Linked DNA regions of Homo sapiens: regions 2, 3, 4 and 5 are each linked to region 1. The links come from fine-mapping of genetic effects on gene expression. A gene starts in region 1. Each other region holds a variant in brackets. All regions are shown on one strand. Distances are from middle to middle.

The links. PIP is the estimated chance that this variant, and not a neighbour inherited with it, causes the effect. A credible set is the group of variants that fine-mapping cannot tell apart.
Region 2: its variant is the best candidate, but not a certain one, in a credible set for the expression of TMEM185A in whole blood (TOPMed, PIP 0.80).
Region 3: its variant is the best candidate, but not a certain one, in a credible set for the expression of TMEM185A in monocytes (Fairfax 2014, PIP 0.89).
Region 4: its variant is the best candidate, but not a certain one, in a credible set for the expression of TMEM185A in whole blood (TOPMed, PIP 0.85).
Region 5: its variant is the best candidate, but not a certain one, in a credible set for the expression of TMEM185A in whole blood (GTEx, PIP 0.67).

What each region holds. Positions count from the first base shown.
Region 1 is chrX:149,628,393-149,634,761 of GRCh38, reverse strand. It overlaps TMEM185A (transmembrane protein 185A), which reads left to right and starts at 2,970. Exons shown (of 7, transcript NM_032508.4): 1 at 2,970-3,219. The coding sequence starts at 3,182. RefSeq lists silencers at 3,008-3,417, 3,428-3,477.
Region 2 is chrX:149,600,301-149,606,669 of GRCh38, reverse strand. TMEM185A (transmembrane protein 185A) reads left to right here. Exons shown (of 7, transcript NM_032508.4): 4 at 2,600-2,683; 5 at 6,191-6,367. Among named protein-coding and RNA genes, the nearest start is that of HSFX2, 8.2 kb to the right of the region's middle. The variant C/A (reference allele first, on the strand shown) is at 2,716.
Region 3 is chrX:149,650,470-149,656,838 of GRCh38, reverse strand. No RefSeq gene overlaps it. Among named protein-coding and RNA genes, the nearest start is that of TMEM185A, 22 kb to the right of the region's middle. The variant T/AT (reference allele first, on the strand shown) is at 2,538.
Region 4 is chrX:149,564,891-149,571,259 of GRCh38, reverse strand. No RefSeq gene overlaps it. Among named protein-coding and RNA genes, the nearest start is that of HSFX3, 18 kb to the right of the region's middle. The variant C/T (reference allele first, on the strand shown) is at 2,911.
Region 5 is chrX:149,406,187-149,412,555 of GRCh38, reverse strand. No RefSeq gene overlaps it. Among named protein-coding and RNA genes, the nearest start is that of IDS, 96 kb to the left of the region's middle. The variant A/T (reference allele first, on the strand shown) is at 3,010.

The DNA.
Region 1 (6,369 bases):
GCAGGCTGGCACCTCCATGTTTCCTGGCTAAAGAACTTGTCAATCTGACCTCCGAGAAGCTCTTTATAGTCCCATAGGCCTTGCACGGGACTGGATCCCAGCTGGCCCTCCCTCCACTGGAGCAAGGGTGAAACTGGTGTTGAGTTCAAATCTACTAATTCCACACTCTCTCCATTCTACTGCTGCAGCCAGGGAAGGAGCCTTGGTGGTGTGTGGAGGGCGGTTCCACGGCCATTTTCTTCCCCTATGCCAGGTCTCCCCAGTCCAAGTGTCTAAATTCACCAGGATTCTCTTCACCAGTGCCTTGCTCTTCAGAGGAGAGGCATCCTATATCACCACATTGAAGCCAATGTGAATATTGAATTGGACAAGCCACCAGCTTATCAGAAGGGTGGTACAAATCCAAGTTAGTCCTTAAAACCATGGTCAGATATACACTGATTCTTCTGGAACACTGTAACCTAAGCCCACCCCAAAGTCACCAAGAATATGCTGTCTGGCTTATTTGGGGGTCATACTTTTTCAATCCAGAGCCATTTCTTTCCTTTGAGTGAAGAATGTTGGGAGCCCCTAGCAAGATAGCCCTGGAATTTTTTGGCAAGTCAAGGAAAAGATAAAGTCAAACTCTGCTAGTGGAGAAGATGTGGGTGTCATCTTCTCCACTAGTCATACTTAGCCTTGATGTATCACCTTTCTTCTGAGAATGTAGAAACATTTAATAAGTGGTAATTAAGCTTCCCAGCACTCCTGGTGCCTGCATATGACCCAGGGTCTTTCTTTAATGTCAGGATCACTTGTGGGTCTGTCTACACAGGTCATTGAGGCTTTGGACCTCCATCTAGGGTGGGACACTGAGTGAGGGCTCTGAAGTGAGCAGCAGGTTGTCAGTAGGGTCTTTTGCACTTGCTGGAGAGAGGACCAGATGGCCATCTGGTTTCTGGCTTTTTTTTCCCCATGAGAGCACCAGTAGCATAAAGGGTTGGGCTTCCAGAATCAGTCCAGGTAATCCACCTCTTGAAGACTGGGGATGTGAAGCCTTGGGAAAGTCCAGTTCTTCCTGTATTTCCTCACAGACAGGTTCATATGTTCCTCTTGGCAATTTACCTTGTCAGAGCAAAAGAACACACTGACAAGTAATTTGTGCATCAGTGTCCTGTTGCCTTTGCTAGATAGCTTCCAGGGCCTGGTCAACTCTGGAAGAACTGCTAAAATTGAACTTGTGGGCCTGCAGAGCAGTGGTTCAGCTCCCAGACTCCCTGGGATCTCATTAAAGTAGCGTCTGCCCTCAAGATTCTGGACTCTGAGGAGCCTGCCTGGTCTCTATCTATGAAGCTCTTGAAAGGGCAGTGATGCCTGTTATTCAAGTGTCTGAACTGGCAGACCATCTTCTCATGCCTGCTTGGGGCACGGTCACTGGTAATGAAGATGGTGCTGTCCAATCTGACCACTGGCAAGCACCTCTTTCTAACAGTATGGGCTGCAGGTTCAGCTAGACCCTGAGTTTCATCTGTGCTCCTTCACCCTTACTTGCTGGCTCGCTCAGGGCCTGTTATACAAGCTTCTCTGCGCCTTAATTCCTCGTCTGTATTTGAGTGTTCATTGAGAACCTCCTCTGGGCTACACATTGGACTTTACCCAGAGGATGGGAAAGGAAGATGGGTGAAAAAGTCTGGGACAGGGTCCTGGTGCTTCAGCAGATGAAAACTTGATTTGGATTACTCAACCTTAAAATCAGCTCATATAATAATATCCATTTCCCAGTGGGTGTTGGGAAGCTTAATTACCACTTATGATATGTTTTTACGTTCTCAGAAGAAAGGTGATACATCAAGACTAAGTATGACTATCGCAATTGTGATTCTCTCAAGCTGCCCTTGGGGCTAAACAGTATAAAATTGTCATTTGTGAAACTCTGCTATTGCAACAAAGGATGACTATTATCCATAATGATAGTAGACTAATGTTTAAGGCATTGTTGTGCTCATGAAAACTTAAATCTGCCCAAAGTGAAGATGGTAAACTAGGTCACCTGCTATGAGCTTGTCCTGCTCTTGGATTCCAAAAGCAAACAAAATCCTTGAGGAGGTTGACACCTGAAAGAGTACCAGATAGCAACAGCATTCTTTGTACACCTAGCATGTACCAGGCAGTGTGTTATGCACACGATCTCACTGAATCTTCCTAACACGCTTAGAAAAGAGGTTTTTATCATTTCCATTCTGCGGAGGAGAAAAACTGAGACTCAAAGATGTTGACTTGCCCAAGGAAGATGAACCTGGTACTTGTAAGTAGGGCAGCCTGGAGTGGAGGCAGAGGTCAGGTGTGAAGTGACCACAAAGTTTAGACAGGATCCAAGGAGGCTCTGAACTGGGTTAGAAAAATGAGGATGATTTCCACGTCTCCTGCTTGAATACCCCCCTGCGTACGAATAGGCCTGCTGCTAAGGGAAAAAGGGAACCCAGGAGGGGAAGGCGGTTGGCACGGGAAGTGACTTTGGTGCTAGGTAACTTGAGTAGGGAATAGCCAGCATATCTGGACACGCTGGCTTGGGAATTGGAAGGGAAGTTGGGACCCAAACTTTGGAGTCGTTGACAGATGTGACAGGTGAAGCCTGGGATGACATCGCCAAAAATGCAACGTCTCACTCATTGTCACTACTCCCAGGGCTCAGTCGTCACTGGGGAAAATCTCCAGAAGGTAGCGCGGGCCAAGGTGACAGGTGTCTGCCAAGATCTGCCCGCCAGACTCCCGGGCGGCGCGCTCCCTCCCTGCAGGCCTTCAGCCCGTCAGCATCCCCTTCCTCGGGGCCCTGCTCACTCCCAGCCTCCATCCCCCTGCCATCTCCTCCGCCGGTCGCGTGCGGACACAAGGATGGGGACCTCCCAGCGAGGAGCGCTCTGGGCGGGGCTCCGGACGCATGCGCGGCCCTCGTACGGAAGCCCGGAAGGAGGGGCAGGGGGCGGTGGCTCAGGTTTCTCCGGGCGGCGGCGGCGGCGGCGGCGGCGGCGGCGGCGGCGGCGGCGGCGACGGCGACGGCGACGGCAGCGGGGACGGCAGCAGTAGCGGGAGCAGCAGCGTGGACGCGGCTGGCGCTGGCGCCATGAACCCGCTGTAAGGCGCAGGCTGTGCAGCACGGGGTGCGGGGGAGGAGGAGGAGGACGCCGCGGTGAAGTTCTCCGCCATGAACCTGAGGGGCCTCTTCCAGGACTTCAACCCGAGGTGAGGCGGCGTCGTTGGCGCCCCCGGGAGTCCGCGCTGCGGGCTCGGGCGCGGGCTGGTGTTCGGCTCCGGGGAGGCACGGCGGGCGAGATGCTGCAGCCCGAGGACCCGGGCGCCTGCCCGAGCCTCCCTGCGGGTGCAAGCGGTCCCCAGGCAAAACAGTCGGCCTCGGCGCCCGCCCGCTTCCTCCTCCCGTGCCCGGTGCTTTCAGCCCCTGCCCGGCCACGGCCGGAAGGGCCCGGCCGCGAGCCCCGTCCTGCCCCAAGGGAACCCCATTCTTTTCTGCTTGCTGTCCCTCATTGGTGTCCCAACTTCTTCGTCTCGGTTCCATCCTCTTCTGCGCCGCTGCGGGCCCTCCATTCTCCGCGTCAGGGCCGTCTCACTCGACCCAACACCCCTACCCCCACCCCAGCTGTTTCCTCCAGTTCCTCGCAGTCCTTGGGGTTTTCCTTGGGTTTATGCCCATCCCTCTCTTGTTTGCTTCTTTGTTGAACGGATACCTGAAACACTGTTGAATCCTTGGAGTCAGTGTCGGGGTATGGCAATACCTTATATAATGCATTTCTGGGTGAGCCTGATCATTTTCCATACTCATTTTCTCATCAGTCTTCACTACAAGTTTATTTGCAGGAAGTAGATATTGCTGTCCTTCTTTTCCAGATGGGGAACACCCAGTGGACAGTGTGGAGAAAACACTGGCTAAGCACTCAAGCGCCTGTCCTTGCACTTGCCCGACTGTTTTGTAACTGTTCTTTACCCCAGGCTGTGAGCTCCCTGAAGCTGAGACCATCTCCTGCTCATCTCAGTGTCCCCAGCGCCTCCCACCCACCGTATCTGGCACATAGTAGGCACATATAAAATGTTTGTGGAACTAAACTGAGCCCAAAGACTTGGATTGGAGACGAGGCCATATGTAACTGGGTGATTCTCTGCCCTTCTTTGGCCCTTCTGTAAAATGAGGAGTTGGCCTAACTGATCTCTTAAATGCACTACTCTCCGAAAGGAGTATCCGTTTCCCTTATTTGCCAGTTGGGAAGACGTGCTCAGTAAATATTTGTGTGCTGTAACCTATGTTAGGTGCTTTAGATGCTGGCGGTCTCAGCATGGGGTGAAGAAGGGCTTGTACACTTAAGATGCCTTACAGTACTGTGCAGTGCTGTACTGCGGGGGCCAACTCTGGGGACCTATGCCTTGGCTGCTTGTTGAGGATGAAAGGAAGTTTTAGGGGAGTATTTGTATGTTGAGGGTGCAGTCTCCCTAGGGATGGTGACATTTTAACTTGTGAGTCATTGTGACTTTGTATGTGCTCTTATTCCACTTTGAGTTCATGTTCTGGTTAGGAGTGCCAGTGTCTCTAACACGGTGCAGACATTATCATTGTTGGCTTCGAAGGCATAGAGGAGGTAACAGAACTAACTGCAGTCCCTTCCTCTGCTGCATCAGGGGGTTAAGATTGGTCTGCAGGGTAGTAGGGTTGGTGCTGTGGCTGGACAAGCCCTGTATGTCTTCTATTTGGAGATGGTGATAAGAAAGTTAAGTAAAAACTGAATTGTTTTGTGCCCTTGGGCAACTCACTTATCTATTGTTTTATCTGTAGAATGAGTATAATCTCTCAGTGGGGTAGGGAGGCCAATTAAGGATTGATTACAAAGTGCCTTACAAATAGAAAGCTACAGTGACTTGTTTGCAAGGTGACAGAGAATTCAGAAGCCTCAAGAAACTGCCTTAAGTGATCAAACAGGCTAACGGAGTTGCCAAAGCAAAATAGTGCTGCACTGATACTACCTTTAACCGTTTTTTCCTTTAGCCCTTTTCCCCCCAAAAAAATTAGTATATGAAATTACAGTGAAATACCTGGTATCTAAGCAGATTTATAGTAATTCTCAACATATTCATCAATCTCTTAATTCTACCTGCATTAAAATGTATTTCTACCTGAAAAGTTTAAAGGTCTTTTATACTGTGCCATTTTCCTGATTCATTGTTGCCAGAGGTAGTGAGTTCCTTAATTTTACAGATATTTCAAGAGGACATTGGCCAGGTATTATTGGTAAATCAGATTTGTTTTTTTAGCTGGTAGTGTTTCACCTCTCCTGAGCACTCCTAGTTTTTGACAGTGTGCTTTAGTCTCCTTCCATGCTGAGGAAGGCCTTCTCTATAGGAGAAAGAAAACTGAGGGGTGTACACAGGAAGTTACCTTATGCTGGGGACTCAAACCTTGATGCTACTGCTTTGCTCCCTGCCTCTATTTTTGAACCAATTCAACATCTCCCTCCTACCCCAGGACCTTGTCACACACTGTTCTCTTTACCAGGAATGTTTCCCTCTCTTTTCCTCTCCTCCAGACCTAGTGAACTCCTATTTATCCTCACTTGGCACTTGCTAAGGGAAGCATTCCTGACTTCCCTGACCAGATTTACTGCTCCCTGTTTCTACAGTTCCTGTAGTATTTACTACTCCTCCATCATAGTGCATATTTGTACCCTTGTGTCTGTCTGGATGCTTATTTGATTAATACCTGCCTCCCCCACTAAACTTTAAGCTCCATGGGGTCAAGGCCGTGACTGTGTCAGTATCGTAGCCTGCATACTTGGAATAGTACCTGGCTCAATAAATATTTGTGGAGTAAATAACTGAATAACTCTCCAGAGCCTATAAGATAAATCTAGAGCTGCTGCTTTCAATCACTGCTTTCCTGGTGGTCTGTGGCCTGGTTCTCTTTCTTCTCACACTCTTCCCACCTTCAGAGTGCAGCCATTGCTTTGGAGAGATGGGAGAGAACATGGCACTAAGGCAGAATATGGCTATATTTACTTTGAAGAGCATGTCTTTGTCATAGAAATAGTCACTGTCATGGTTTGGTGGGTCCCAAGGCATGGGTCATGGCTCCAGATCCCCTTTCCAGCCTTTTGGATCTTGGTAAGTCTGAACCCACTGCTGCGTTGGCAAGGCTCTGGAAACTATAGTGACAGAGAATGATTCACAAGTGTCAACACTCAGATGTACAGGGCTGCCAGCTGACCCACTCTACCTATTTCCATCTGGCACTGAACTGGTTGATCATGAACTTCTTTTCATAATTGCTTTTTAGTTATGCAGGTTAAGACATGCCGAAACAGATGTACCGGACCCACAAACAAGTCCTTCCTT
Region 2 (6,369 bases), 28 kb after region 1:
AGGAAGCCCTGTGTTGGGAGGGAAGGGATGGCATTTTTGGGACACATTGAAGCCTAGAGGCAGGAAACACTCCATCAGCTGAGTGGACTGTGGCGATTCAGATCCGACGGGAGCACAAGGTGGAAAGGAAGGAACTGTGGGAGTTGAGAAGAGAGGGAGCCTCTACAGAGGGATTGGGGCAAATAGGGGCCACGTCCTCAGCCCACAGAGCATGTGCTGAAGTGCCCCAGGCACCCCAGTGCACTCACAGGGCACCAGGGGATAGTGGACATTTTGAGGAAAACAGTAATACCTGACATTTGTTGGGACACCATACAAACTACTAGCTTGAAATAGTTTACAGGTTTATTTTTAGGCCACACTGCATTCCTTTCAGTGACGTCGTATCTTTAAGAAGCTGGGTTTTCAGCAGTTGCTGTGAAAACAAAAAAGGCTAATGCTGTGTGAAAATCCGGGTGAAGAACAGGTAACGAGTGGGAGCACCTTGTCTGATTCCAAGGCGTGGGAAATGGTGAGCTACCTGACAGGCACACGCATCCCACTGGGAATTAGTTTTGGTTATTTAAGAATAATATTAACATTTTTCTTTAGATTTATATGAATTATTTTTTCTAGTGGCTACTTAGAAATACTTACTAAGTTAGATGTAATTACTTAAATCAGTGCAACTGTTGGCATTCCCAGCCACATTAGGGATTTCTTTTGGCCTAGAGGTCTATGGAGGAATTACTAAATTCCCCATGTACCTATGTACTGAGAACTTTTGGGAAGCTCTGGGCCTGGTCCCAGATTTCAATTTTGTGGGCAAGAATGTACTTTACCAGAGTGAGGAGCAGCCTGCAGGGCGTTTGGGCTGGAGGCGGGAGGTTAGTAAGGGGTTGCTGAAGTGGTAGGCGGATGGTGCCGAAGAAGGCCTCACTAGGCAGTCATCATCAGGATAGGAAGTGGGCACGGGATTCAGGAGAAATCTGGACTTTACAGTGGACAGGATGTGGTGACTGAACGTGACAGTGTGGGAAAAAGAATGCAGGGTGATTCCCGGGCTCATGGCTTGAGAAATGAGACCACTGTTGTGCCTCCAAGTGACATGGGAGGCTATAGAAAGTGACATGGGAGGCTATAGAAAGTGACATGGGAGGCCATAGAAAGTGACATGGGAGGCCATAGAAAGTGACATGGGAGGCCATAGAAAGTGACAAGGGAGGCCATAGAAAGTGACATGGGAGGCCATAGTGACATGGGAGGCCATAGAAAGTGACATGGGAGGCTATAGAAAGTGACATGGGAGGCTATAGAAAGTGACATGGGAGGCCATAGAAAGTGACATGGGAGGCCATAGAAAGTGACATGGGAGGCCATAGTGACATGGGAGGCCATAGAAAGTGACATGGGAGGCTATAGAAAGAGGAGATACAAGGTTCTAAGTGCAGGCGATAATGATCTCTATTTGGGACTGGCTTCATTTGAGGTGCCTTTAGGAGAGCCGAGTGGCCTATGCACAGCTGGGTCTGCTATGCAGCAGGAAGGCTAAGTTGGAGACAGATGTGAGAACTAACCATGAAGGAGGTAATAATGCAGACCAAGGGTCTGGTTGAAATTTCTTCTCCCCCAGTCCAGGGTGCAGCGGGTGAGTGAAAATATGTGTGTTTGTGTGTCTGTCTTCCTAGTCGGGAGAGAAGACTGAGTTTGTGGCTCTGCGGAGCATCACCATTTAAGGAGGGGGAAAAGGAGACAGAAGGAATTACCAGAACACTCCAGAGGGCTCCAAGACTGTATGGTGGGATCTAGATGGCCAGGAGGAGGGGAGCAAAAAGGAAAGAGTCATCCACAGTATCAGTAGGATGCCAGTTGAAGTGTTTTTGCTGCCTCCCGGTTATCGGTGACTTTGATGAAAGCTGTCTTCTGGTGGTCATGGGGGTGGAGGCCAGATCACAAGGAAGCTGGGAATGGTAGATGAGATAGTAGGGGCTTGCATATTCATTACTGTCTCGCAGAGAGAAACCTGAGGCTAAGAGGGGTCTTGGATCAAAGGATGGGGTGGGTTTATCTGGTTTCGGGGCTTTTGTTTTTAATGAGAAGGAGTCATTTCTGTGCTGCTAGGAGGGATCAATGGAATAGGTGGGGTTAAAGATACAGTACGGAATCTACAGTTGATGGCTTGATGTGACAAGGTCCTCAAGGAGCCTGAAAGGAAGGGGTGGGGTCCAAGGGCAAAACCGAGGTATGAGAAGAAGGATGCACAAGGATGGTTTCGAGTAGACAGTATTGTTGGTAGGGACATGAAGGAAGTTTAGTGGTCTATTGCAGCTAGCCTGTGTTCCCAGTGAACCTGGAAACAAGGTTCTCATCTGTGCTCAGGCCTCAGGCCAGAAAGGGCAAGGCAGCAGAGGGGCAAGGCAGCAGGCTGAGCCCCATTTCCCCTTGCCATAATACTGCTGTGCCCCTCTGGTACCGAAAATCAGGAGTTTCCAGTGCAATATAATATTATACAAGTTACACTGTATTATAATGTGTATTGTCTTTTAGTGTGTTAACCAAATTACTGCAGTATTAAATGCAAATTATACTTTGTTTAACTGATTCTTCTCTTCATTTTTAGTTAGAAATCCTGTGTTCTGTCAACATTCTCCAGTTTATATTCATTGCCTTAAGACTGGACAAGATCATCCACTGGCCCTGGCTTGTATGTAACTTTTAAAATCCTTAAATAAAGTT[C/A]TTTTTTATTATAAAAGTAATTCATATTCACTGTACAAAGCTTGGAAAAGACGGACAAGCAGAAGTAATAGCCTAATAGTCACCCATAATCCCACCATGGGGAGATAACATGGTTAGTGTTTTTATGTCTGTGTTTTATACAAACAGTTTGGATATAACTGTGTGCACCATTTTGTATCCTGATTTTTTTGTTTTAATGTTGTATCATAAACATTTTATCATGTTAATAAAAGGTCTTTATAAACATGACTTCTAAAGTTTAATTGATACAAAATATTCTTCAAGTGCATGTATCAGACCATCCTCTTATTTCTAAAATATGGTATTTCCATTGTTGCCAGTGTTGAATGATTTTAAATCATACTGCAGTATATATGTTTATGCATTAAAATTTTTGCCTTTTGTTTTTTGGTTGTTTTCTTAGGAAATAGTCCAGAAATAGTGTTACTGAGCTAGAGGTTGGGAACTATTTGAGATTCCTATATACGTATACTGCACTGCCAACTTGCTTTTCCAAAAGCCATACCTGGCCAGGCGCAGTGGCTTACACTTACAGTCCCAGCACTTTGGGAGGCCGAGGTGAGCTGATCACTTGAGCTCAGGAGTTCGAGACCAACCTGTGCAATGTAGCAAGACCCTGTCTCAAAAGAAAAAAAAAAAAAGCCATACCCATTTACACTCTTGCTGGTGGTGGCATCTATGTCATGCTTCTAAACTGTGACTTCAGTTACTGGGCATTTGGTTGAAATTAACTGTGAATAAATGGGTAGATGGATGCAGAGATAGAAAGATAAGTGGCAAGGTAGAAATTAGAGAACACAGTATAGATTCCACTATTAAATGCATGGAAAAAAGATGGAGACTAAAGGCAGAAGAGTTCCATTGCCACTGGGAGGTAAGGTCATGCTAGTGTTTTTGTTCGGTTTTATTTTCTCTGTTGTTTGATGTATAATTTTGCATACAATATATTTTATGTATTAAATATAGCTACCCTTAAAAAGTGAAAAGTATAGTAAAGAATTGGGAGCAGAGAAGAAATGAAGGGAACCTAAGTATACTCCATATTTAAAGATGGGAATAATCACTTCTGCCCAAAGTCTTTGATAAAACATTCATAATAAAAAATATTCAGTCACTCATCCTACAACTTCACAGTGCTGTATCTGGAGAATGGTCATTGGGTTCAAAACTGTTTCTGTTGTGACGTGAAGGAAACATATCTAAACAAGACCAAATTTTTTCGTATAAGATACTGTCAGGGAAAAAAAAGATTAGTAATTTTGAGAGCTTTCCACAAATGAGAAGAAAGATTTTTTCTGCCCTTCATCCTCTGTAGATCCCAGTTGATGAAGCAGTCTGAGTACATGTTTCCCATAGTGAGCAAGAGAAAACAAGGAAGCCTATTGAGATCTAACATTCCACCCATGAAGGGAACTTCAGTAAAAAGGAGAATCTCATCACAGAATGGGGAACGGGGAAGAAAGGCTGTGCATAGACTCTGCAGAGAAACCTACAATCAAGAACTGGTCAGGAGAAGTAAAATTCGTATGCCAACTCAAATCATAGATCTAAAAGAAAATGTAAAACTATAGATCTGTTAGGAAATAACATAGGACAGAATCTTTGGGGTTTGCAATTAGGCAGAGAGTACTTAGAAATGGCACTGTTAATATGGTCCATACGAGAGAGAAATCATAAATTTGGACTTCCTCAAAATTAAAATGAAATGAAGACAGGCCACAGACTGGGAGAAAATATTTGCAAAGCACACATCAAAACACTGACTTGCACCCAGAACATACAGAGAACTCTTAAAAACTCAAAACTGCAAAAAGAAACACCTAAAAATTGGCAAAAGAGTTGACAATTTGCGAAGGGGATATACACATGGCGAAAAAGCACAGGAAAAGATGCTCAACGCCATTACAGGTTAGGGAAGACAAACTACAACCAGGATGAGGGCCCGAAACACATGGCTTCAGAATGGTGAAACTCAGCAACACTGACGAGGCCACGTGCCTGGGAGGATGCAGAGGAACTGGGACACTCCAGTGTTACTGGCGGGAAGGCAGGTGGTACGGGCACTGTAGAAAATGGTTTGGCCATCTCTGATGCAGTTAAAAGCGCACTTCCCGTGGGACTTGGCTGCCCCACTCCTGGGTATAAGATTTACCCCCAGAGAAGTGAAAGCGCGCAGCCTTGTAGAAACCCACACACCAGTGTTTGTAGCAGTCTTGTTTGCATTTTGGATAGCGGCCTTGTTTGGTTTTCACAAACCACCCTCAGCGGACAGTCAGATAAACTGTAGGCATCCATACAATGGAATACCACTCAGATCTGAGAGGGAACGACCTGTGGATACAGGGAGGGAACAACTTGGATGAATCTCATTAGAGACATTATGTGGATGGCGGGAAGCCAGTCTCAACAGGTTACTTGTCTCGCGATGCCATCTACATAAAGTTCCAGCAGAGACAAAAGTACAGTGAGAGAACAGATCAGTGTTTGCCGGGGCTAATGGTGGGGACGGTGTGATAGTGAAGGGACAGCACGGAGAGTTTTGCAGGGTGACAGACCTCTTCTGCATCCTGCCAACGGCTGTGTGAATCTACTTGTGTGAAGACTCAGGGAACTCACACCAAAGGAAGACGGTCACTTTTCCTACTGTATGATAGATAATTAATAAAAAGGGAGAACGGAGGAGTGTCGTCCCAGGAGGCAGGGCAGGAGGGCGAAGACGTGTCACAGGGGAGCCTGGCCAAGTGGCGCCCCCGGAACTCGTCCTCTGGGCTTGTGTGTGGATGAGACAAGGTCTACCTGGTACGACAGGGACATACTGGGAATGCGCCCTTGCCGTGGAGGCGGGGACCCGGCAGCGCTACGTATCCAGCATCAACCTGTATCCAGCATCAACCCGCCAAGTTCACTAACTTGGTAGGGGTGAGGTTAGGGATCCTTAGGAGCCCAGGCAGCCAGACTTTCTGGGGAGCCCATTCCCATTTGTGTTGCCAAAGTACCCCCAGCAGGTTGTGGGAATGTTGCCTGTGAAGAGAGTCTGTTGGGGTGAGATCTTGTGTGTGTGCACAGGGTGACAGTTGTGTCCCATTTCCCGGGAAGCTGTGATGGCAGCAGAACCTAGAGGAGCCTGAGAGAGTGTGGGAGAGTGGGCCTCTGGAAGAGTAGAGGCTGCGGAGCCAGGTGCAGGGCTGTCTGTCACCCAAAGGAAGAGGGACTGATGACTCACTGAGCGTGTGTGTCCCCTGGTGGCAGCAGGCCCCATAGTGAACATACCATACCTTTTCTGTCCTGAGCGATGCTCCCAGCAGTCCTGGGAGATGGAACGGTCCTTATTCGGCTCACAGGAAGGACCGCCTTAACTGGACAGACACAGCAAGGTGCTAAAGATGCCTTCCATCAGAGGCCAGGTTGGAAGCTCTAAAGAGACTTCTCTTGCTGTTCTCTCACCCACCCCCAGGTTGTGTGTGTCCCGCTGTGGATTCTCATGTCCTTTCTGTGCCTGGTGGTCCTCTACTACATTGTGTGGTCCGTCTTGTTCTTGCGCTCTATGGATGTGATTGCGGAGCAGCGCAGGACACACATAACCATGGCCCTGAGCTGGATGACCATCGTCGTGCCCCTTCTTACATTTGAGGT
Region 3 (6,369 bases), 22 kb before region 1:
GAATACAGGTCTAGGTGTCCAGAAACCTTTCTCTCGGGATAAAGGGGATGGAAGGCACCATTGGCATTGAACAGGCAAGGCTGTTGGCCTGCTGCTGTGGCACTGCTGCGGCGGGCAGGACAATGGTGCACGTGTAAAGACTGGGTGCAGAACAAAGCAGAAGGCTGTCTGGTGACACCTAGTGCTCATTCCAGAGTAGACTCTGTGTCTTCAATGAGGGGCCAGATGTCTTAATCCAGGACTGGATTTCCTATCTTTCAAAGTTCACCTCAGGTGGAGGCCAGAAGCAGGTTTGGCTTTTTGTTGGGGGGGAAGGTACACATAGGAGGCTCTTTGTGCTTCCTACTGTACTCCAGCAGGAGGCATACAACTTCTGGCTGTTCAACCCTTGATCATATTGGCTCTGATCAGTGGGCTCAGGTGGAGAGGTGGAGACAGCCTTGTTCCTCCATTGCAGAGTGCGTCATCAACCCTTCAACAATGTTTCATCCATTGATTAGCATGGATTGCATCAGTTGCATTGCTGGATATTGCAAATACTTGTTTTCCTTTTCTCTCATATGTTGCATTTTCCTCAGCTGGAATTCTCCAGTAAGGAAGAAACTTTCCTCATCAACTGTAGCTATTGTGTCATCCTGAAATACAGTTAGTACAGGAAATGCAGGATAAATGTTTTATTCTCTCTCTTGCAGAGCCAATTCTCAATGTGAGGGGTGGTTATTCTTGTTCCTTCCAATGGGGTCCAACAAGTCATTCTTTATTAATGACTTTTTATTTTAGAAAATGTTTAGGCTTACAGAATTATTGCAGAGATAGTACAGAGAATTCTCATATACCCCACACCCAGTTTTCCCTATTACCATCCTCTTATATTAGCATTACACATTTGCCACAATTAATAAAACGGAAGACAAAAACAAGGACACTAGAGGAATCTGAAGCCTCTGGCATCTATAGGTATAAGAAATAAAGCCCAACTCCCAGCCAAATTGACATACATCCTCACTGTAGAGATCTAATTGCCTCTGTTCCTATGACCTCATACAACACGTTCACTCTCAACAAAAGGATTGCAAGGGACACACGCAAAAGAGTAAGAAAATACATAGTCTGAAGAGACAAGACAATCAACAGAACTGGACTCTAATATGACTCAGATATTGGAATTAGGAGGCAGATAATTTAAAATGACTATTTTTAAAAATTTAAGAGGCTTTAATGGAAAAAGTAGGCAACATGGAAAAACAGATAGGTAATGCAGGAAGAGAAGTATTGCGCTCAGCAAAATCCAGAGTATGGGAAACTGGACAGAACACAAGGCATGTCTTCATTTTCAACAAATGAGTTTCAAAAAAAGGTAATGTGGGGGAATCTATAAATTACTTAAGGTGGCTATTAAGAACATAAACACAATGTATAGATCATATTTGCAAACCGATTCAAAGAAACTGCATTTTAACAGGAGCATATGTCCACCAGATACATGTGACAAATAAGTGAACATTTCATTATATTAATGACTTGCTTACATGTTTAGGAAAGATAATAATGTTGGCTTTATGTTTTATAAGAGAGTAGTTATCTTTAGAAATGCACTCTGATGTATTTGGAGATGAGATCACATGGTGTCTTGGATTTGCTCCACATTATTTCAGTTTCTGCTATGCGGAGTAGGTAGGGGTATAACTAGAACCAGATTGGCCATGAGTTGAAGATTATTGATACTGAAAGTCTGGTATATTAGATTAATTATAGTATTTACCCTATTATTAGGTGTATTTGAAAATGCTTGTAATGAAAATATTTTTGAAATAAATATGATATTTAATTTGAAATCCTAAGTGAAATGGATAATATTTTAGGAAAATAAGTACATGAACAAATTGATACAAAAAGAAATTCAAATCTTTAACCAAACAATAAAAAGTGAAACTAATCTAAGCTCAAGCCATCCTCAAATGTGGACAAGGCAGCTTCGGAGGCCAATTCTACATTGTTATCAGGTAAAGCTCAAAGCCACCTTAAGTAAACTCTTCCAAGGCATACGAAAAGTTGGGCAATTATTCAAATTATTTTCCCAAGCTAACCATTCTTCATTCAGGTACCAGAGGAGGACAGCACCGTGAAAACACTTGAGCCAAACTTCACTCACACAGAGGCAAATATATTAATTAAATTAGTAGCATATTCAACATAGAAGTGAATTAACGGATTGTGTCCAAGGAACAAAAACATGATTTAATATAAAACAATTTTCAGTTGTGATTTCCTACGTTATCGAATTAAGATTTTAAAAAGTGATCACTTTAATAGGTATAATAGGTACAGAAAAGATTCTGGAGGAAATTCTACAAGAGGTCATGGTCAAAAGTTTTAGCCAAATGAGGTTAGAAGGAAATTAGCTTTTCCTACGATCACTGGCCAGCATACCCAAATATGAAATGTCAGAAGAATTATTGTCATAGGACTATGCTATAACCTCTATCTTTGGAAATTACACTGTAACATAAGGCCAGAGAGGTGGATATAAAAAAAAA[T/AT]CAGTATAAATATTGAACAGATTTAATATTTGGTACGACAATATGATTATCTAGAAAATTCAAAGAATTGTGCAGATGGAATAGTCAAATAACAGACTTCAGAAAAATAGTATACAGAAGATTACTACAGTAAAATCAAAATCCTTGCAACCCAAATAAATAACTATTCAGAACAAGTAATAGAAAATACCCCATTCACAATGGCAACAAAATCTAGAAATTATCCAATGGAGACAGACAAAGCATACAAGATCTTTATGGAAACAACTATGCAAGTACTGATAGAGTTAGGTCAAAAAGTTCCCAGATAAACAGAGCCGTATTCTATATCCCTTAATAGGGAACAGACTATTGAAAAGATATCAATTTTTCTTATTCAAGATTTACAGATATAATGCTTAAAATTTAGCTGCCAAGATGAATGTCAGGCTTGGACTTCTGCCCTCAACTACCAAAATCAATCCTGGAAAACTATAGAAGAAAGAATAAAATAAAATAAAAAAACAAATAGTATCAACAACAAAATCTAAACAACAAAGCAAAGCCCTGGGGGAGAATGAAGACTGTGTTTAACTGGTACCTGTAATCGAAATGGCCAGAGTGTCAAGGAAGTTAGGGAGAGTCCATAGCTGGCATAGAAGGAAGATGACAGGATGTGTAGAAGGAAATGTTTAAATTTTTGCCCCTATTCCAGTGTGAAAATGTCAGGTGGCACCTGAGACCACAGGTGCCAGTAGTCTGGTTTCATTGAAACAGTAGTAGCTCCAGTCTGTGCTAATAACCACCTAAAACCACATTAATAGGTGAATTGGCTTAACTGAACATAAAGAATGGATTACAAATAGAGTGTTGAGCATTAGAATGAAACAGGCATAATGAGGTTAAGTATGATTTCTGATGCTGAATGAAAGTTTAAAAATGAAAATCACTGCACTGAGCTATGAAATACTCGATAATTCTAATGGCAGGAATCCCCAAATTTCATGCTGCTGCTCAGCCTATTTAATGTAAAAACAAATATTTTAGGAAAACAGGTTTGCAAACTCGACCTGTGGCTGGGGAAGAGCTTCCTTGGGAAGGTGTGTGTCTTCTCCCAGAGGTCACTACAATCACAGAAGCTGCCGCTCTGCAGGGAGTACCTGGCCTGGGACCCGCAGCCATTCTCTGCAAGAGATGCAGCTGGGCAAATGCTCAGAAGTGGCAGAAACAGAGTATCTCCTGCCCATGGCTTCATCAAAGATCCAAGAGCCAGGAGGAGGATCCTCTTGAGTGAGGACTGAGAGTCCACCCTCCCCTTGTAGAGGAACCAGAGAATCCAGCTCAGCCCCTTCTAACAATCCTGGAAGATCCTGGCAATGTTGTCGCCCTGAACACACGCCTCCCACCACTGCCACCTCAGGGGACTGGGAGTCAGAGACTTGGTGTGAAGGGAGCAGACCCAATTGGCAGAGGGCAGGGTGTCCAGGCTCTGCAAGGAATCAATGTCAGGACCCTAAGGGAAGCTTGAGGGCCCCTATAACCATTCCTACCCCCATGCCTGGAAGAATCCAGTTCCGCTGCTGCTGTCGACCCAGGGAAGCCCCAGGCTTGGGGGCCGGATGTCACGCCACTGACGTGGCCTCAGGGGTCAGAGGATAGCAAGAGCGCCTCGCTCTGAGTGGCAGCTTGAGATTGGTGGAGTGAAACAGGCCCCGGCTCTGTGAGGAGGCAAGGTGAGACACTGAGGAAGACTGAGGATGCCCCTACCCCAGAGAGAGGACCCCAATTAACCCAGTGCCACCCCTGCTGCCAGCCCTGGGCCACCTGGGGGCAGACTTCTCAGGCTGGGCCGCTCCCGGCTCCACTGCCACTTAAGCCGCAGGGCATTCTGGAGACAGAGCTTGGTGTGACCAGGGAAAGGCTGATTAGGAAAGGGCAGGACCCATGCTCTGCCTGCCAGGCATCATGGTCCAGACCCTGAAGGAGGGCTGAGATCCCACAGAGCGAGGCTCCATCTCTGCTGTCAGCCCTGGGAAGTTCCGGGCATGGTGGACAGGCATGTGGATCCTGATGTTCACATCGGGGGCTGATGGAGGGAAGGGGCTTGGAATCATGAGCACGGCCTCAGGGGAGCAGAAGGTGGGTCCAGGCCAGGCTGGGAGACAAGGCAGGCCTGAGGGGACCCAGCAACCCAGAACAGGGGGCCTACTCCACTTCTTTCTGAGACTGAGGCACCTTCTCAATTGGCCTTGGGAATTTGAGGGATATAGATTCAGGTCCACAAAGGGGTGAGGCTCAGCCCTGACAGGATCAAGAGGAGGAAGAAGAGGGAGGACTCAGAGGACCTCGACCCTGGGAGGTCCTGGGAGTGCTGGCTGTGTGTGGCACATCTTTGCTGTGTCTTTGGGGTGCCAGTGACGAGAGGGGTGTAATATGAGGAGTAGGGCCTCAGGCCAGCAAAGAGAGAAGTCCCCTAGAGCCCTGAGAGAGGACTCAGCAGACCTGTTATCCTGGACCTAGGAAATCTGCCTCTGCTATCAGTCCTGGGAGGCCCAAGGCAGGCCTGTGGAGAAGGGACATGGTCCCCCACTTTCTCCTTGGGGGTCCCAGGAAGATGGTGGCCTTGGCACACAAGACTCATCCACAGTTGAGCAGGAGCGAAAGGGCTGGGCCCTGTCGGGAATAAATCTGAATACCTGGAGGAACGCAGACAGAGGAGGCACCCCTGAAACCTGCTCCTTCTGTCAGCCTTGGGAATCCCGTGCAGAATTTTCCGTGTGGTGCCCCCTCACTTCTTTCTCCCAGGTCTCAGAGAGGTTTGGGCCTTGGTCTGAGGCAGTGTCCTGAAGTCATACAGCAGAGGAGGCCCAGGTATTGCCAGCAGGCAAGGTGAGGTGTTTACTTTAAATGTATACAAAGGGCTCCACCGGCCCCAGAGCAGAGGGGACTCCAAAGTGCCAACCCACCTGTCCTACTGTTATTGCTGGAGCCGTGGCTTCTGCTGACAAGCTGCACCCTGAGGAGCCCTCTTGTTAGTGGTGGCAGGTACCCAAGTTACCCTGAGTTACTGGTGGTGTATCCATATAGGTCTGCGGCAATTTCAGTTCTTACCTCCTCAGAAGAAAGAATTCGACTGAGGGGCCAAAGGCAGAAGGAAAGACTGAGGCAAAAAACAAACAAACAAACAAACAAAACACAAAGCTTTAGAACAGTAAGGAAAGGAAGGAAAGGAAACAAGAAAAGTATAACTCGGAAGAGGGCCAAGTAGTCAACTTGAGAAACCAAAGTCACAGCTTGACCTCTTGACTTGGGGTTTTATGTTGGCATATGTATTAGTTTTCACATTGCTGATAAAGACATACCCAAGACCGGGCAATTTACAATAGAAAGACGTTTAACTGGACTTACAGTTCCGTGTGGCTGGGGAAGCCTCACAATCATGGCAGAAGGCAAGGAGGAGAAAGTCACATCTTACATGGATGGCAGCAAGCAAAAAAAAAAAAAAAAAAGCTTTTGCAGGAAAACTCCCCTTTATAATAACCATCAGATCTCATGAGACTTACTATCATGAGAACAGCATGGGAAGGACCTGCCTCTATGATTCAGTTACCTCCCACTGGGTCCCTCCCACAATGCGTGGGAATTCAAGATGAGATTTGGGTGGGGACACAGCCAAACCATATCAGCCTACTTCAGAGATCTTGTGTTACTTTCTCCCCAGTCCTGAGATCTTGTTGGGAAGCTGCTGATCCATTTCAGGTGTTTTCTATTAGGAGACTGCCTTCCCCTGGCAAGGGCTGTGAACAATTATTACTTTACAGAAATAGTTAACAACCACTTGACCATCGCCTAA
Region 4 (6,369 bases), 64 kb after region 1:
GATCCTTGCTGCACTTACATAAGTAATCATTCTAAGTTTGATGAGACTAAACTTATTTTTTTATCAAAATAGTCTTACTCTAGTTATCTTTGATAGAAATGCAGACAGAAGAGAGAAAAATTAAGTTTCAGGAAAATTAAAAAAACTATGGTATACTTGTTATTAGCTTGTAGCTCTGTTCGTTGTTTTCGAGTCTAATTGCAGGCCATACATGATTCTAAATTGTTCTAATTTTCTCCATTATCTGGCTGCAAGTCTCATACTAACGGGAACTGCTCAGGTCCTCTGTAAGCTGCAGCTCAACATCTCATGTAAACGTCAACAAACAACCCTCCCGCCTGATGTGTGAGCCACTCAGAGAGTTCACCACAATGCCTGAAGCCATAAGCAGACTTTCAAGCTATAAGCCAGAATGAGAACTCGATGACTTCATCCTGTAGACAGCTTCTCTGAAGATGTTGAAACAAGACTCCCTTTCACAATGACATCCTTATCCCTCTTAATTTTTTCTTGCTTATGCTTCCCTCTTTCACTTGGCAAGATAACACCTGTATGCTAGACCTTTGAACGAGGTGGGGGTTAAGGGGACCGACTCCCAATGCAGTCAAAAATCTGTGTATAAACATTGAACCCCCAGAAACATAACTACTATTAGCCTGCTGTTGACTGGAAATATTATGGATGAACACATATTTTGTGTTTTAAGTGTATTATGTACTATATTTGTACAATAAAGAAAGCTAGAGGTAAGAAAGGGTTATTAAGAAAGTCATACAGAGGAGAAAACATATTTACTGTTCACTAAGTAGAAGTGGATAATGATAAAAATCTTCATTCTCATCAACTTCACATTGAATAGGCTGAGGAGGAGGAAGAAAAGGAGGGCTTGTTCTTGCTGTCTCAGGGATGGCAGAGGCAGAAGAAAATCCATGCATAAGTGGACCCATGCAGTTCAGACCTGTGTGGGTCCAGGGTGACATGTAGTTAGAATTTTACAATGATCAGCTTCCATAGAACATTGGATATCCCATGCCAAGCCCATATCTTTACATGACCCAAGACATTCTTTAATCCACCCAGTGGCTAAATTTAGAAACATCCTTGATGCAATTGTTTGTTTAAACTTTGCTAGGGATCCCTTTTATAGTCAGACTTCAAGATCCACTTGGCCTCACTCCCTGCCTCAGTTTAGCCCGTGATGGGATACTAGATCATGGAACTGCAACCTTCTAGCTCAACAGGAAGGACTCTGTGCAGCTGCTAACACTTTCTTTTGTACGTGGATGAGTAAGACAAACAGGCTGGTTGGTTAGAATGGGTAGATTCCTCATCTGGCTCATTCTTTGGTCTGCTCAGTTTCAGTTGGTTTAGCTCATGGGAAGCCTGCCTAAGGGGCTGTTTTCAGAGCCCCCAGCCAAACTGAAGTTCTAGTACCAGAATATCTGGTGAGGCTGACCTAACTGGAGATGGAGGGGAGCTGATGGTAGGTTTTCCAGTATGCCTTTCACAGGGTAATTCTTGTGCCTGGCGGACAGCCTAATAAGTTTATTTTCCACAAGATTTGGTTCAGGAAAACTACCAGGTGGTTTCACATAACTGGTTTCAGTGAGGGCCCTTAGAACCCACAGTGGAGAAGACAACCAAGCTGTCTTTTGGGGTTCTTGATTTCAGAACTTGGCTTTTGGACGGCATTTTTAGACCTGTCCTGGGCCAGGAGGGAACCCACTATCCTGAAGTCTTACCAGATTTGCTTGGCTTATTTGATCATGCAAGAGAATTACATATGAATAATTAGGTCCCCCTGCTCACTGGCTCATTTTTTCTCAAAAGATTCATTGAGCATCTGCTATTTGGAAGGCTTAGGTTAATAGTAGAGATGCTAAGGTAAGCCACATCCACCCCTAACCTTAGGGCGGTAGAGTCTAGGATCTGCAGTCACATAATTAAAGTGGCTAGATGTCTTCTAAGATCTGGAGGGAAAATAAGAGAGCGGTGAGGGTGTGGAGCAACAGGTGAGAGTATTAATAGTTGAGTGTACATGCCCTGAGCCAAAACCTTTTGGACTTTGGGAAACTGTAGTTCCTTCTCGGGGAGCTAATTGTAATGAAGCTGTGTGGTGCCAGAGCCAGATTCTCAGGCATGAGAGAAAAGCCTGGAATAGAAAACTGCTCAGCAGTTCCTTTTGAATAGTGGATAAAGCAGAGAGGAGTTTCCATCTGGGGCAGGAATGGAAAGCATTCTGTGCTCCTGTTCCAGTGAGGTGGAACACAGCACAAGAGCTAGGTGATGGATACGCATCACCTGCAAGTGTTTTCTGAGAGATAAGGGTGAATATCCCTGGAAGTGAGGCCCAGAAGCCACTGGACAGGTACTCTTCTGCCTGGCTGGGAGCCAAAGCTGACTCTATTAAAATGACATTCTAATTAGGTCATCTCAAGTGCCATTTGGCTAATTTTAGCAACGGCTAGATTTTGGGTGGCAATGAAATGAAAAAAAAATAGTGGTTTGGATGGAAAAGCAGCGGGCAGAGAAGGAAGGAGTTGGTCCTTGACTCAAATTCTAGGAGCTGTGAGCTGCATCTGGCTTGGGAAAACTCCCCAACAACCAAAGTTTGAAGTATGTCCTCTAAGAGGAAATATTTACTGAATTTTATAGATGAAACTTCATTCTTTGACTGATTATTCCATGTCTTACCAAGCTGTATATTATCTGATAAGTCCTGGAGAACAATGACAACAACAACAAAATCCCAGAGTGTTAAGGCCTGGGGTAAAATAATATAGGAAAAAACAGCCATTCGCCGTTCTTTAAACTTGTAATTTACGCCAGGCCCTGAGCTAGGTGCTTCACTTGCATGGCACACACTCCAACAGTCCTAGTGGAAAGGACTTGTCACACCTGCTTCACAGA[C/T]GTAGAGCTTGAGGTTCACAGGGCTTGGGTATTTCCCAGAATCCCGTGGCTACTAAGGGACAGGGCTGGAAAGACCCCTGGTCTGAATTCCTCCAGAGCCTATGCTGTTCCCCCTCCCCCCAGCCTGAGCCCCATCTCCTGACTGCATCTTCTCAGCACTGCGCCATGTCTCTCAGGTGACAGAAAGAACCCTGAGACCAAGGTACTAAAAGCAGGTCTACAAAGGTGACAATGAGAATCAAACACCATTAGGGGGTGGCATGTGCTAAGTCCCCTGGGAGCTCATGGCTGAATGCTTTCTGTTGAGCACCTACTATGGGTGCTCATCAGGTTGTGGGAGAGGCTTCAAGTGCTCATCCACATCTTGCATTCCTGTCCTTCCTGGGCACATGGGACAAGTACACTCCCAGGATTTGTTTCTGGCCCCGACAGTTTCTCGTGTCACAGCACCCTTTCTCAGTCACCCTCATGTGCCCTCCCTTCTGACTAGGGGAACTGGCCTGCTGTCCGGTCTTCACTGCTGCCTCCCCTGGAGGCTGTGCAGAATCACCTCCCCTCCCTGGGACATGGAGTAATCCTATCCCCTGCAAAAGTCCCTTGACTCTGCCACCACACACCCTTGGTCTTGTCTCACAGCCACAGCCACCCTGGACTGCAACTTTAGACGCTTGGTATTCCCTCTGGGAAATCCTCTGCATACTGTTTGTTTTCCCAGTGGGCTGCAAGTAGAGTATGATTTGAAACATAATTTCCTGGTTCTTAGGGTACAGGCCTGAAGGTAGACAGAGAGTTTGTCCAGTCACTAGCATATTTGCAGTTTTATTTTAATGACCTTCTTATCTGAACCTGGGGACTGAACGGGCAAACACAGGGACAGGCTTTCTTAGGTGCTCAAAACTTCCATCCCCTCATAAGAATTCTAAGAGGAACAGCGATCAACTGAGTCTGAATTCCTACAAACCCTGGGCTTCTCCCAGGAGGTGAAAAATGGTTCCATGATTGACATGCCAGCTAGAATTTGAAAAGAATAATTAATCAGCCTTCCACTGCCTCCTGTCTGGCATCTCTCCCCAGGAACATACTGGCTTTCAGTGTGACTAGTGGTGCCTGTACAGGTGTTCAGGCAAGAATGGTTATGTGGAAGGTATCAAAGACTCTGAGCAAAATTCTGCCCCTGCATCAGATGGAAGGAGGAAATCTTCGGCCTCCTGAGATGACAGATGGCACTGCAAAAGGAAGTGCAGTAAATGCTATGGAGTGAAGAAGGTGAACTCTTTCTGCTGACCTTTACAGGATGCTCTTCAAATTGGATGGGCTAATGCATTTGAAAACAACTGTCACGGCCAGGCGTGGTGGCTCACACCTGTAATCCCAGCACTTTGGGAGGCCAAGGTGGGTGGATCACGAGGTCAGGAGTTCAAGACCAGCCTGGACAATGTGGTGAAACCCCGTCTTTACTAAAAATACAAAAAAATTAGCCGGGCATGGTGGCACACGCCTATAGTCCCAGCTATTCAGGAAGCTGAGGCAGGAGAATCACCTGAACCCAGGAGGCGGAGGTTGTGGTGAGCCTAGATCACGTCACTGCACTCCAGCCTGGGCAATAGTGCGACACCGCGTCTCAAAAAAAAAATCTGCCACATAGTAGGCACTTAAAAATTAAGACAATTTCAAGGAGAATCTTGTCTTCTCAGAATCTTCTCTAAAGAACGAAGAGTGTTATCACAAGAAAATTATAGTTTACATATACTTTCCTCTATTTGAAGCTTTGTTCAAAGTCATTGCTTCTGAACAACTTTTAGAAAAAAATTCTCAGATTGATGTCAGACATTTCAACTAGTCTTATCTATTTAAAGAAGTAACTTTTAGAGGCCAAGGTGGGCAGATCACCTGAGGTAAGGAATTCGAGACTGGCCTGGCCAACATGGTGAAACCCTGTCTCTACTAAAAATTAAAAAATTTGCCGGGTGCGGTGGCGGGCACCTGTAATCCCAGCCACTCGGGAGGCTAAGGCAGGAGAATCGCTTGAACCCGGGAGGCAGAGGTTGCAGCAAGCTGAGATCGTGCCACTGCACTCCAGCCTGGGCGACAAAGTGAGATTCTATCTCAAAAAATTTTTTAAAAAGTAAATTTAGTTCCATCAACCTCATTTATTATTTTTCTATAATTTCTGAAATTTTTTATTTCCCTATCTATATCATCCATATATATATATGTATAAAAAATATATATACATATATTTCTTTTTTTGAGATGGAGTCTTGCTCTGTCACCCAGGCTGGAGTGCAGTGGTGTGATCTCGGCTCACTGCAACCTCCGCCTCCTAGGTTCAACTGATTCTCCTGCCTCAGCCTCCCGAGTAGCTGGGATTACAGGTGCCCATCACCACGCCCAGCTAATTTTTGTATTTTTAGTAGAGACGGGGTTTCACCACCTTGGCCAGGCTGGTCTCTAACTCCTGACCTCGTGATCCACCCACCTTGGCCTCCCAAAGTGCTGGGTATCATCCATATATTTTTGTTGGCCTTAGGTTAATTTACTTTTCTTTTCTCATTATATAAGATCAAAGTTTAGATTTTTTGTTTGAATCTTTTCTTACATTCTAATACAAGCATTTAATGATATAGGCACTACTTTACCTGAATTCCACAAATTTTTAAACATGACATTTACGTTTTAATTTATTTGGAAATATTTTCTAACTTTCCTCAAGAATTTTTTGAAACATGGATCACTAAAAATATGTTATTTTAAAAAATACAGGTATCTCATTCGTTATATTTTTTATTTTATCCCATTACAGATTTTAAAAACATACTTTGTACATATTCAATTATTTTAAATTAGTTATGGGTTGATTTATGATTTATTTTGGTAAAACTTCCACATATACTTGAAAATCTTGTATATTCTGCTGCTTTGCTGTGGCGCATTCAGCAAAAGCCAATCAGCTCGAGGTGGTTCATTTTGTTGTTCAGGTCTTTCCATAACTTTGAGGACTTTCTGTCTAGTTCATTTATCATTTACTCAGAGAGGAGTGTTGGAGTATCAAAATATGATTGTAGATTTGATTATTTGTCCTTTCAGTTCTATCAGATGATGTTTTGTGTATTTTGAAGCTCTGCTTTTAGGTGAATTAACAGTTAGGATTATTATGTCTTACCTGTTAAGTGACTATTTTTTATCATTGCATAATGTCCCTATTTATCCATGGCAATTTTCCTTCTTATAAAGTAAAAAATTAAGTAATATAGTCACTCTAGCTTACTTTTTAAATTTTATTCTGTAAAGTACCAAATACTAAAATATCAGGCAAAATTCACTCCCGATATTTCACGTAGGTTCTTTTCTGTTTTCCCTAAGTGTCGGCTGGTCTGAGACATAAAGGGAAAGAGTACAAAAGAGAGAAATTTTAAAGCTGGGTGTCCAGGGGAGACATCACATGTCGGCAGGTTCCAC
Region 5 (6,369 bases), 220 kb after region 1:
TAGCCCTCTGTGCACCGTCAGGATTAACACCATGTGGAAACCACAAAGGCCTGTGGCTTGCATTCTCCAAAGTGGCAGCCTGAGCTGTATCTGGGTCCCTTTGAGCTATGGCTGGAGCTAGAGCAGCCTGGATGCAAGTAGCAGTGTCCAAGGCTGTGCAGTGTAGCAGGAACCTGGGTCTGGCCCATGAAACTATTCAGTCCTCCGAGGCTTCAGAGCCTGTGATAAGAGGGGCTGCCTGAAAGATTTCTGAATGCCTTAGAGGCTTTTTCCCCATTGTCTTAGTTATTAACACTTGGCTCCTTTTTAGTTATGCAAATTTCTCTATCAAGTGGTTGCTCCTCAGCCTGCTTCAATTCCTCTCCTGAAAAAGCTTTTTCTTTAGCACATGACTAGGCTGCAAATTTTTCAAACTTTTATGCTCTGCTTCCCTGTTAAATATAAGTTCCAATTTTAAGTCTTTTCTTTGCTCCCACATTTGAGCATAGGTTGTTAGAAGCACCCAGGCCACATCTTGAACACTTTGCCACTTAGAAATTTCTTCCACTAGATCCTGTAGGTCATTGCTTTCAAGTTTAAACTTTCATAGTCCACAGGCCATGGGAAAAATCCAGCCAAGCTCTTTACTAAAGCATAACATGCTTGACCTTTGCTCCAGTTCCCAATAAATTTCTCATTTCCTCCTAAGACATCATAAGCCTGTCCTTCACTGTCTGTATCTCTATCAGCATTTTAGTCATAACTATTTAATCAGTCTTTAATAAGTCTCAAACTTTCCATCATCTTCCTGTCTGCTTCTGAGCCCTCCAAACTCTTCAAACCTCTGTTTTTTTATCCAGTTCCAAAGTAGTGTCCACATTTTCAGGTATCTTTGTAGCAATGCCCTACTCCTCATTACCAACTTTTTGTATGTGTTAGGCTGTTCTTACATTGCTATAAAGAAATAACTGAGACTGGATAATTTACAAAGGAAGGAGGCTTAATTGAGTCACAGCCCATCAAGCTTTACACAAAGCATGGTGCTGGCATCAGCTCAGCTTCTAGGAGGGCCTCAAGAAGCTTACAATCCTGGTAGACAATGAAGGGGGAGCAGGCATCATACATGGTGAAAGCAAGAGTGAAAGACAGAGAGTTGAGGAGGAGGTGCCACAAGCTCTTAAGTGACTAGATTTTGTGTGAACTCAGAGAGAGAGCTCACTTATCACCAAGGGGATAGCCCAAACCATTAATTAAGGATTCGCCCCTTTGATCCAAACAACTCCCACAAGACTCAATCTCTAACACTGGGGATTAAATTTCAACATGAGATTTGAGCAGAGCAAATATCTAAACTATATTATTACTTGAACTCTTGTGTTTTCAACAAAAAGTTATGTGACATAAAAGAAATAAGAATGTATGACCCATATACAAGTATAAAAGCAATCAATGGAAATAATCCTTGAAGAAGCCCTAAAATTGGACTTACTAGGCAAAAGCTTTAGATCTCCTATTTACATATATTCATAAAGCTAAACTTCGCCATGTCTAAATCACTAAAGAGCAGTATAAGAACAATGTCACAACAAATAGAGACCATCAGTAAAGAAATATAAGTTAAAAAGAGCCAAATAAAAATTCTGGGGTGTGAAATAATTGAATTGAAATAATTGAAATGAAAAATTCATAAGGAAGGCTCAACAGCACATATGAGTGGGCAGAAGAATAAGTAACCTGAAATTAGTTCAATTGAGATTTTCTAGTCTGAGGAACAGAAAGAAAAAAGATGAAGAAAAATGAACAAGGCTTCAGTGACTTGTGCAATAATAGCAAGTGTGCCAAAATATGCATAATGGAAGTCCCAGAAGAGGAGTGAAAGAAAGATGTTAATATAGTATTTGAAGATACAATGAAAAAACATCCCAAATTTGATGAAATTAATCTGCCCATCCAAGAAGCTCAATGAACTCCAAATATGAGAAACACAAATAGATCTTCACCAGTACACAGCATAATAAAATTATCCAAAGACAAAGAAAGAACCTTGAAAACAGCAGGAGAGAAGTGACTCATCACTTACAAGTGAGCTTTAATGAGATCAACAGCTGATTTCTTATTAGAGACCATGGAGGCAGAAAACTGTGATAACATTTTCAAAATGCTGAGAAAAAATAAAAACTACTGTCAACCAAGAATTCTGTACACAGAAAAACTGTCATTAAAAGACAAGAAAGTAAGATACTCCCAGGTAAACAAAAAGTTGAGAGAATTTGTAACTGGCAGACCTTCAGACAGAAATAAAAGAAAACTAGATTGCAACCTAGATCCATATAAAGAAATTTAAAAAACTGTTAAAGATAACTATGTAGGTGATCTAAACCAGTATAAGTGCATTTTTCAGTATAATACCATTTCTATTCTATTTGACTTAAGACTACTGCATGATGTGATAATTATAAATCTAGTTGAGAGTCACACAAATATAAAGATATAATTTTTGACTATATTAGTATAAGAAGGAAAAGTTCCACAAAGGAGTAAGGTCTTTGTACACTATTGAAATTAAGTTGGAATTAATCTGCACTAGAATTTTATAAATTGATATGTTAAGGGTAATCCTCAGGAAAAACACTAAGAAAATAACTAAAAAATACACAGTAAAAGAAATGACAGCAAATAAAAATTGTACACTATGAAATATATATTTAACACAATACAAAGCAGTAATGGAGGAATTGAGAAACAAAAATAAATTACATATAGAAAATAAATAGCAAAATAGCAGACATAAATTTTGCCTTATCAATAATTACATTAAATGTAAACAGATTAAACATTGCAATTAAAAGGCAGAGATTTGCAGAATTTAGTTCAAAACTTTATCCAGCTATAAGCTGTCTATAAGAGACACTTTAGGTTCAAAAACATTAATTCATTGAAAGTAAAAGAATGAAAAAGATACTCCTAGACATGGATAAGCTGATCCTAAAATTCACATGGAAATGCAAGGAACCAAGAATAATTTAAACC[A/T]TTTTGGAAGAGAAGGAAGTTGAAGGATACACCCTTCTTTATTTTAAGACTTACTATAAATCTCCAGTAATCAACAGATATGGTACTGTCTTAAAGATAGACATATAGATCAATGGAACTGAATTGAGAAGTCTATGGTAAAAATTATATCTATGATCTATCAACTAGTTTTTTTCAGTGAATGGTGCTGAGACAACTGGACATCCACATGCAAAGAAGGATTTGAATTCCTCCCTCACACCATATAAAAAAATTAACTCAAAATATATTAAAACCTAAATATAAGCACTAACATTATATAACTCTTAGAAGAAAACAAAGGTATACAACTTTGTGACCTTGAACTATGTAATAGTTTCCTGTATATGACACCAAAAGCACAAGCAACTAAAAAAAGTAAATTGGAATTCATCATGAGTAAAATCTTTGGCATATCATAATTAAAGTCTTTGAAGAAAATTTTTGCAAATTGTATATCTGATAATAATATAGCACCCACAATATATTTGTTTTCATATTTACTCTTATCTTTATTGCTTTCCTTCTGCTAAATTTGAGTTTAGTTTTTTCCTTCCCTTTCTAGCTCCTTGAGGCATAATGTTAGGCTCTGTATTTGTAATCTTTCTTTTTATAATGTAGGCATTTATTGATATGAACTTTCCTCCTAGAACTGCTTTTGCTGCACATCATAGGATTGATATGTTGTTTTCATTATCATTTGTCTCAATATATTTCTAAATTTCCTTTTTAATTTCTTCTTTGATTCATTGGTTGTTCAGGAGCATACTGTTTACTTTATATATATTTGTCAATTTTCCAAAATTTCTTGTTATTGATTTGTAGTTTCATACTGTTATGATTGGAAACAATACTTGATGAATTTAACAGGTAAACAATTGAAAAACAATTAAAAGGCAAGGCAATTAAAAATGGGCAAAGGATTTCAATAGACATGTCTCCAAAAAGAATACACAGGGGCCAGTAAGTACATGAAAGAATGCTCAACATAATTAGCCATCAGGGAAACACAAATCAAAACCACAATTAGGTACAACTTTGCAACTCCTGGGATGGTTGTAATTTTTGAAAATAGAGGAAAATAAGTTGTGTTAGTCTGTTTGGTCTGCTATGACAAAATACTTTTGATTGGGTAACTTATAAACAAGAAAAATTTATTGCTCACAGTTTTGGAGGCTAGGAAGTCCAAGAATAAGGCTCTGTCAGATTTTGTGTCTGTTGAGGGCTCACTCTCTGGTTCATAGTTCATGACTTCCCACTGTATCCTCACATAGTGGAAGGGGGCTAGCTAGTTCCCCAGAGTTATTATTGTAAAGGCACTAATCTCATTCATAAAGGCAGAGCCCTTATCAGCTAAACACCTGCCAAAGGCCCCAACTTTTAATACTATCACATTGATGATTAGGCTTCAACATAAAAATTCTGGGGAGACATAAACATTCAGTCCATCTGCACAAGTGTTGGTGAGGATATAGAGCAATTGGAGTCCTCATGCATTTTTGTTGAGAATTTAAATTGACACAGCCACTGTGAAAACCAGTTTGGTAGTTCCTCAAAATGTTCAACACAAAGTGGCCATATGATAGCAAATCTGGTTTTCACTCAAGATAATTTAAAACATGGCCACACAAAGACTTCTACACAAATGTCCACAAAGCATTATTTGTAACAGTTAAAAGATAGAAACATTCCAAATGTTCATCAACTGAAGAATGGATAAACAAAATGTGGTATACATACAATGGAATATTATTCAGCCATAAAAGCAACAATGTACTGATACAAGCTACAGTGTTGATGATCCTTGAAAGCATTATGGTAAGTGCAAGAAGCCAGTCAAAAAAGATCGCATATGATTCCATTTATATTTGATGTCCATCAAATCAAGACTACAGAGGCAGAAAGTAGATTAGTTGTTGATTAGAATGGGAGAGGGAGAGGAAAGAGAGTAGAAGGATGATAACTAAAGAGTTCAGGGTTTTTTTTTGAGGTAATTAAAATGTTCTTAACTGGAGTGAGGATTGCACATATCTGTGAACATATTACAAACCATGAAGTTGTCCATTTTAAATAAATAAATTGGATGATATGTGAGTTATATCTCAATAAAGCTGTCATAAAATCAAAAGAAAAACATGTCTAGACAAAATACATATTGATTTAGGCTTCTGCTTTGGCTAGGATCTAGCAGAGCATTGAGACTGTTAGTCCCACTGGACTGTTTTCAATGGAGGAAAGAAGATATTTACAATAAAAAACTGAGGTGCTATTATTTAAAGAAGGTGGGGCGAATGTATAAACTCCTCCAGTAAATTATAATTTTACTTACAATAAAATCCTAATATGTTACCATAGACTACTAGGTCCTAGATGGCCCATTTTCACCTGCCTCTCCAATTTCATCCTCTTCTCTTTCTTCTCCTTCTTCTTTTTGCATCTCCTTGGACACTTTAAGGTCATTTATGCCTCAGGGCATTTTTATCTGCTGTTCCCTCTACCTGCAATGCTTTTCCCCCAGGTATTTACACAGATTTCTTCTTCTCATCATTCAATTCTCAGATCACAGGTTATCTTTTGAGAGAAGCCTTCTCTGACTACCTCATCACAGTTGCTGGCCATTTTACCACTTTGTCTTCATAGGCATTATTATTATTTGATAACATTTTTATTATACTTATGTGTTTATTTTTGTTTTTCTCACTCTCATCCAATAGAAGGTAAACCCTATGAGAGCAGGAGCCATGATTATTCTATTCAGCAAGATAGTCTCAACCTCTGGCATATGGATTAGCACACAGTATAACTCAGGAAGTGTTTGTTAAATGAACTAGTGGTTTAAAAGCCCCAAACTTATCAAAAATAACCTCCTTTCTGTTATTAAAAAGAAATGTTATTACATTTCTTTTTAAACAGAGCAGTGGAAAGGAAAATAGGCATTGAAAAAAATCCTGAAGGAAGTTAAATCAGTGCTGTGAATGGGACCTAGGGAGCCACTCTCTGGGAGGCTGTGGCCCAACACATTTCTTCCCTATTTATTTTCACACTCTCAAATTCAATCCTTTCTGTCTCTCTCTTTGTAATGTAGACACATACAATAGGTAGTTAGCTGGGGCCTCATTTGCTGTATGTTTCTTTTTTCATGAAAGCAACTGTCCACATCACTGTTCATAGGTTAACTCAATCCCTTCTCTTTCTTCAAAATATTTCTAATTTGTGCCTGTTTATACTGTGCTACCTGGTGTTAGCATGCATAAAATAACTTGGTTGCCACCCCTCTCCTAGAGACGTCTTAAAGCTTCTGAAACAGAGTTCTAGTGTCCATGGCTATCTTTGAAATGGTTA